Linked DNA regions of Homo sapiens. The protein of the gene in region 1 interacts with the protein of each later gene in a biochemical or structural test. Each region holds a gene or a part of one and is shown on either strand. Other genes may lie near its edges.

Evidence for each region. The genes of interacting proteins can lie anywhere in the genome.
Region 2: of the proteins of MYL2 (region 1) and ROCK2, one has a biochemical effect on the other in vitro, tested with the Homo sapiens proteins (one study listed by BioGRID).

What each region holds. Positions count from the first base shown.
Region 1 is NC_000012.12:110,918,791-110,922,543, forward strand, and holds the start of MYL2 (myosin regulatory light chain 2, ventricular/cardiac muscle isoform), read right to left. Parts: upstream 1,790-3,753; 5' UTR 1,740-1,789; coding exon 1,737-1,739; intron 404-1,736; coding exon 314-403; intron 1-313. UniProt on the Homo sapiens protein: Contractile protein that plays a role in heart development and function.
Region 2 is NC_000002.12:11,183,884-11,187,636, forward strand, and holds part of ROCK2 (rho-associated protein kinase 2), read right to left. Parts: intron 3,041-3,753; coding exon of another isoform or gene 2,989-3,040; exon of another isoform or gene 1,902-2,988; intron 887-1,901; coding exon of another isoform or gene 796-886; exon of another isoform or gene 783-795; intron 1-782. UniProt on the Homo sapiens protein: Protein kinase which is a key regulator of actin cytoskeleton and cell polarity.

The DNA of each region.
Region 1 (3,753 bases):
GGTATATACTAAAATGTGAACTGATTATCTCTGGGTAATAGAATTGTAGGTAGTTTTTATTTCCTTTTCTGTGCTTTTCTGAAAAATTTTCCAACATTTTTCAACATGGAATATGTTTTACTTTGATAATCAGTGAAAATATTAAAAATAGTTTCTTTTAAAAATTCACACATCCGTTCAGGCCGAATTTGGGATTGTTTGGAGGATAGAGGCATCTAATGAAAGGTCCCTGCTGGGAATATGGAACAAAAAGAAGGTTCTCCCTCGTGGGTGGGATTTCCATCCAGGCGGATGATTCAATAGCTGCACCCACCTCCTTAAATTCCTGGATTTGGGTCTGTTCGAACATGGAGAACACGTTGGAGTTGGCGCCCCCGGCTCTCTTCTTTGCTTTCTTAGGTGCCTGGGGGAAAAAAGCATCGATTAAAAGAGTGAGAGGCTGGGAGTCAAAAAACTAGGTCAGGCCCCTACTCTGGGTGTGTTCATCTCTGTTGCAGGGCTCAGCTGCCCATCTGTGAAATGTGGGTACAGCATCCACACTCAGGTCTCCAAACGGTGATGCTGGAGGGAGCAAAGGACATGACATGAAGTTTCTCCAGAGCCCTCTGGTACCAGTGGATCATAAGCGTTTGTGCATCTTGCAGTGGCTCCTTCACCAACTAGGAGAAGCCACAGGTGTGTCCCTGGGGATGGAGGCCACACCTTCAGATCGCCCCTGCAGGATCCAGCCACTTTTGTTCTGATGCATTTCACAAAAAGCTCAGTAATGCACAGAAGGAGAATTGATTGGAGGGAAAGAAAAAGTCAGGCTCACTAAGCCATGATGAATGCCAAGATGAAATGACAGTTCTTCAAGGTGTTAAAACCCAACTGCGCCCCACACCCCACAATTTTCCCTTGCTCCAAATGGCAGCAAAACCTCCTCTCTGAATGCTCCGTCCTTGCACCACATCAATAGGGCAGAGAAGAGCGAGTTGACCTTTCTTCCCCACCCCACTTCTCTCTGACTTTCAATAACAGCAAATGATTCGGTACTCTACATATGTATTATTTAATTCTCATAACCACTCTGTCAAGTGGATACTATTATTATCATCCCCATTTTACAGGAGAGGCAACTGAGGCTCAGAGAGGTTGGGTCACTTGCCCAAGATCACACAGCCACACACACAGAAGGCAGAGCCGGAGTTGAACTTGGGCGTTGAACTTGGGGAGTTGAACTTGGGCATTCTGACTCCAGAGTTCCTGCCTCTAACCACTCTCCCTCCTGTGCTGACCCTGATTTGGGGACTGCCCACTTCAGGAGGGGGACACCTAACCCAACAGCACAGAAAGAAAGGTTTTAAATTTGCAAGTTCAAAAGGTGAAAACAAAAACATTCTTTTTCCCAGCTGCCTGAACAAGAGAAAAGAATTACAATTTGATCCTTAAAAGCATTCAATCCCATTTTGCAAGTCCTGGGAGTTATTGATTCCTCGAGAGGTCAGTAGACAAGCCATAAAAAAGCCAACTCTCTTATTTTGTGTTTGTGAGTCCCCGAGAGCTGCTGTTATTTGTGGCCTATCGGGGCATTGATTGGGGTTCCTCTGTGCCCGCGCAGTCAATGGGGCTTTTTCCACAAGGGGCTGGAGGCTTTGAGGGCCGCCTTCCTCCCCCTCCGCCGTGGTCCCTCGCTTGTAGTGGCTTCCTCTCCTCGCCCACCCGGCATCATCACCTCCTGGAGCCCTTGTACTCACCATGGTGGAAAGGACCCAGCACTGCCTCCCGAGAAGAATTCCACACTCCGCCCAGCTCTCTGCAGCCCAGGAACAATAAATACTTCCTCCCCATGTTTAAAAATAACCCCATGACCGCTTTTGGCAGTCATAGGTGAGGCGGGCACCACCTAAGGCCCCCCCACCCCATGCCGTTCTTCTGAAGTAAGGGTGGCTCACTCGCCACTGGGTGACACGTGAGCCCCCAAAAAGGCATTCAAGGTTAAAGAGGCAGTAGCTGGGTCATGGTCACGGGGAGAGATGCTGCGCGCTCTCTGCGGTGCTTGGGCCGGGGACACTTGTGCTTGTCAATTTTGAGAAAAAAAATGGCAGGGAGAGGAGACTGCTAAAATGCTCTGTTTTATCAGCCTGGATCTGGCCTCAGGGTCTTTGCACCTGTGTGCCCTCTACCTGGAATGTCTTTCTGTCAGTCATCGCACGGCTCCTTCCTTCACCTCCTTCACTGCATCTTTGCTCATATGTCATCTCCTGAGTGAAGCCTCCCCGACCACCATCTTTAAAATAACCATGAAGGCTGGCACTGTGGCTCATGCCTGAAATCCCAGCACGGCGGGAGGCCGAGGCGGGAAGATTGCTTGAGCCTAGGAGTTTGCGACCAGCCTGGGTGACATAGGGAGATGCCTGTCTCTACGCAAAAGAAAAAAAAATAGCTGTGCGTGGTGGTGCATGCCTATAGTCTCAGCTATTCAGGAGGCTGGGACAGGAGGATCACTTGGGCCCGGGAGGTTGAGGCTGTGGTGAGCCACGATCACACCACTGCACTCCAGCCTGGGTGACAGAGCAAGACCCTGTCTCAAAACAAACAAATAACACAGCCACGCACCTCCTGCGCTCCGATCTCCCTTCTTTGTTTCTCTGCACAGCGTGAGGCAGTCCCGAACACTGCCCACAGTGCACTGACTCATTTTCTTCAGCATCTGTGGAGCGTCAGCTCAGAGGGCAGGGATCACTTTAGTTTCCCTCACCACTGACTGTCTCCCCAGCTCCCAGCTCATGATGCACACAGCAGCAGCTCAAAAATAAATATTTGTTGACTGAAGAAATGACAAATCTCATTGACTGAGCACTGGCACGTGCCGGACACTATGTGCTCATGGCTCCCACACATAATTTTCCAGCCACCCTAGAGGGTGGGGACCACCTCATCATCCATGCCCCCATTTTACAGATGCGGAAACAAAAGCTCAGAGAGGCGAAGTGAGCTGCCCAGGGTCACACAGTGATGGAGCTAGGCGTGGACCCCTCTGGAGGCCCCTTTGTCTCCAGAGTCCAGGCTCTTTAAGAGCCTTGAAAACAGCAGCTGCTCTCAGAATGCAAGGTGTCATTATATAATACTTTTACTGAAGACAGCTTTCCTGCTGGGTGCAGTGGCTTATACCTGAAATGCCAGCACTTTGAGAGGCTGAGGCGGGTGGATCACTTGAGTCAGGAGTTCAAGACGACCTTGGCCAACATGATGAAACTTGTCGCTACTAAAAATACAAAAATTAGCCAGGCGTTGTGGCGCGGGCCTGTAGTCCCAGCTACTCAGGAGACTGAGGCAGGAGAATCGCTTGAGGCCGAGAGGCAGAGGTTGCAGTGAGCCGAGATAGCGCCATTGCACTCCAGCCTGGGCGACAGAGTGAGACTCTGACTCAAAAAAAAAAAAAAAAAAAAAAAGGACGGGCATGTTGGCTCACACCTAGCACTTTGGGAGGCCGAGGCGGGTAGATCACCTGAGGTCAGGAGTTCAAGACCAGTCTGGCCAACATGACAGAACCCCATCTCTACTAAAAATACAAAAATTAGCTGGGCGTTGTGGCACATGCCTGTACTCCCAGCTACTTGGGAGGCTAAGGCAGGAGGATTGCTTGAACCCAGGAGGCGGAGGTTGCAGTGAGCCGAGATCGTGCCATTGCACTCCAGCCTGGGCGACAGAGCAAGACTCCATCTCAAAAACAAAGACCAAAAAAACCCCAAACTAAACCAAAACAACAAA
Region 2 (3,753 bases), on another chromosome or scaffold:
GTTGTAGTAAATATATACAAGCTACTCTATGAAATCTGATTATAAATAGATACCAGTACTACCTGATTTATGTTTTGCAACTTGCTTACTTAGACTAAAACACACATTATTTCTTTTAAATCCTTCTATGTAAAAGGTTTAACTTGAGGCTCAACTTTCATTCAAATCTCCTTTAGCCACTATTAACCAAACTATTTTACATTTTCTAAAAGCACAATTCTCACAGCGTATCACTGACATTCTTCAGCAAGGGTAACATTAAATTCTCACAAAGCAAACATTTCACAGCACCACACACAAAAATGCCAAATCAGAAATAGCTATTTCACAGCACTTATTAGACTTATAAAGTTTTTATGCTTTCAATTCTTGCAAGTTGGAAATAAAAGGAGAGAGATGGAGAAAGGAATCTCATGCTATGTTCACAAACTAATATAGCTGTAGGAACTTGAAAACGTTGTAAATTTTACTTCTCTTCTGAATATGGCTTCTTTGGAATGAACAGAACGTATCAGAATTAACTCCTTTTGTGATTTCTACATCTCATTCCTAAGATAAATTCTAACTGTACTAAAAATTTATAGCCAATAAAGAATCTGAACATAGCATTTCACTTTTACACTTAACATGTAAATTTCAGTTAGCAACTTTTCGAAAACTACTTTTAACTATATACTATTAAAAACAAGTTTCAAAAATAAAAAATAATGAAAGCCCAAGTGGCAAACCACATGCACTACGTTGAAGTACTAAAATAACTGATTTTTCATTTTTTGATTTACCCCATTTATTTCTTCAGAAATCAAAAACATCGTCATCATCATCACCACCACCATCAACATCATCAAATGACCAATCCCAGTCTTTAAATGCCAAATCAAGCAATCTGCAATAGGAGGTTTGTAAATTTATACTCTAACACTCTTTAGAAACTGTAACTTAATGTTATGACTTAGAAATCATACTTTGAATGTGCTTGTAAGCATTTTAATTTTCCCTTCATGGATAACAACAAGATTAAAATTAAGACGGACGCACATAGGGAAGCCTTGCCCTTTATATATAAATGCATATAATCATGTTGGCCAAGTACACTTTCCAGATATTTGAAGACAGCGATCATATTTGGGATAATAAGAAACAATCTGCTTCTCCCTCCTCACTCCCATACCCCAGATAAACACATAACCATCCTGATGCCCAGTTTGATTTGAGAATTATGAAAGCACATTTGTCAATGTTCCCCTTCACCAAAGTGGTCAGATTGTCAGCTCAGTTTTTCCATCATAGCACCAAAAACCATGGGGTAAAAAGGGAGTAATAGAATAAGAAAGCAGCTTTCTGAATTCCAGTAGGACCCTGCCTGCTCAATGTGTCACCAAGAGCTTTGTCCTGCATATGAAAAACTAGGGACAAGGGAAAAGCCACAGGTACATAAGTAGCATTAGCAAGTCATCTTGGCTAAATTGGACTTAGAGTTGGGATATATGTGGTCTTTTCTTTCTAATTCAATAACCTAAACTGTAATATTGCTATCATCTTTGTTTTTAAAAATAGCCACCTGGCCAGATGCGGTGGCTCACGTCTGTAATCCCAGCACTTTGGGAGGCTGAGGCGGGCAGATCACCTGAGGTGAGGAGTTCAAGACCAGCCTGGCCAACATGGTGAAACCATGTCTCTACTAAAAATACAAAAATTAGCTGGGCATGGTGGCAGGTGCCTGTAATCACAGCTACTCAGGAGGCTGAGGCAGGAGAGTCACTTGAATCCAGGAGGCGGAAGTTGTAGTGAGCCGAGATCGTGCCATTGCACTCCAGCCTGGGGAACAAGAGTGAGACTTCGTCTCAAAAAATTAATAAATAAATAAAAATAAAAATAAATAAATAATAAAAAAAAGCAGTAACTTTTTCATTTTTAAAACTGTGGTGTTCATGAATCAACTTGTGCCAAGGAACTCATCTGGTCCCCAAAGTCTCACCTGTAATCACTATTGTCAGTGGTTCTTATTTACACACTTCTAAAGTAAGAAACTTTAGTGTATATGATTTACCTACTGCTCTTTATAAGGCCTCATTCCAAGAGATTTAGATATGACTGAAAAGGGCCCAAATATTTGCATTTTCAAATAAAAAACCTGAGGCGATTTCTGATACAGCTGGTTAACTTTGAGAAACACTGACAGAATAGGTTAATGGATGATTACTCTAATTTAAAATAAACACAGCGACTCAAATTACTCTTTTAAAATGTGCTAAACACAGCACAACATTTGAGAAAACACACAAACAGATATAATTACTCACTGAACACATATCGCAACCTGGCACACACTCACTTCTCTAGACTTATATATAATGTAACTTATAGCCATAGTTTCAGCTCTACTGCTTGGGAGATTGTGATCAGCAGGCCTTCCAGGGCATCCAAGCCTCAGCTTTAGCATAGGTTAGGAGAAAGCTGCATTGCATACCCTTTCAAAACCTTTGAAGTGTGTGCCAGTGTCACAATCTCAAATTTAAGTCTAATCGCTAGATGCGACTGTAGTGTATGACGAGACTTCCCTTACAACCCTCTCCCTCATCCCTTCGAATCAGTCATCTAATTCTAGTTATTTCAACTGAAGAAATCTTTCCAAATCCAGGTTTATTTTCTTCGTTTTCATTGTCAAGTACTCAGTTCAGGATCTCATTAAGCCTGAATACCAATCCCTTACTGAAAGACTTCTACTTATAAATCAAAACTCCTGAGCACAGTGTACATGGAGCTTTTCAGTTGGGTTCAGACTTTCTCTCTAGTGTCACATCATCTTTTACCACTCCCTACCCTTGCCTTCTCCCAACGCCAAGCCAACACAAAATTACAAATACATAAGTAATTCTGATGACTTTGTACCTCTGCACATGACATTTTGCTTGGAACTGATTTTCCCTTATTTGTCTGCTTGTAAAATTATCCATCCTCCATTGTTTGAGATCTTTCTTAATGTCCTCAGGCAGAATTCTCCATGCTTCCCTCGTTTCCCCAAGCGCTCTGTTCATCCCTATATTATAAACAGCATTTTACATAGTACTGTAATTGCCTGTTGCTTGACTGTCTCCACCATTAACAGGGATATAGTTCAGGCCTGCGAAACTTATTGTCAAAGATGCTTTGGAAAGAGTGCATTTAATTTGGAGTTCTACCAGCAGTCCACAAAAGTACCCATTTCGTTTCTTAACCCGTGCCAGTTTGGCAGGTGAAAAATGGTTTTATGTTATAGTTTTAATTTAATGCTAATTTCTTAATACAGTAGTCCCCCCATATCCTTGTCTTCACTTTCCATGGTTTCAAGTTACCAGTGGTGAACCACAGTCTGAAAACATTAAATAGAAAAGCTCAAAACAACTTAGAAGTTTTAAACTGCCCAACGTTGTAAACAGCGTGATGACATCTTGTGCCATCCCACTCTGTCCTGCCTGGGATGTGAGTCATCCCTTTGTCCAGCATATCCATGCTTGTTAGTCACTTACTAATGGTCTTCATTATCAGATTTTAAAAAATTGTATGTGTACGGTCCAGTACTATTCGTGATTCCAGGCATCCACTGGGGGTCTTGGACTACATATCCCTTGAGATAAAGGGGGACTACTGTAATCAGGCTGATCACTTTTTTTTACATTTAACAGCTATTTCCATAATAATGCCTGCATGCGCCTCATTAATTTTGTATGGGGATGAGGCAATCTTTTTTCTCAATGATTTATAAGAACTTTT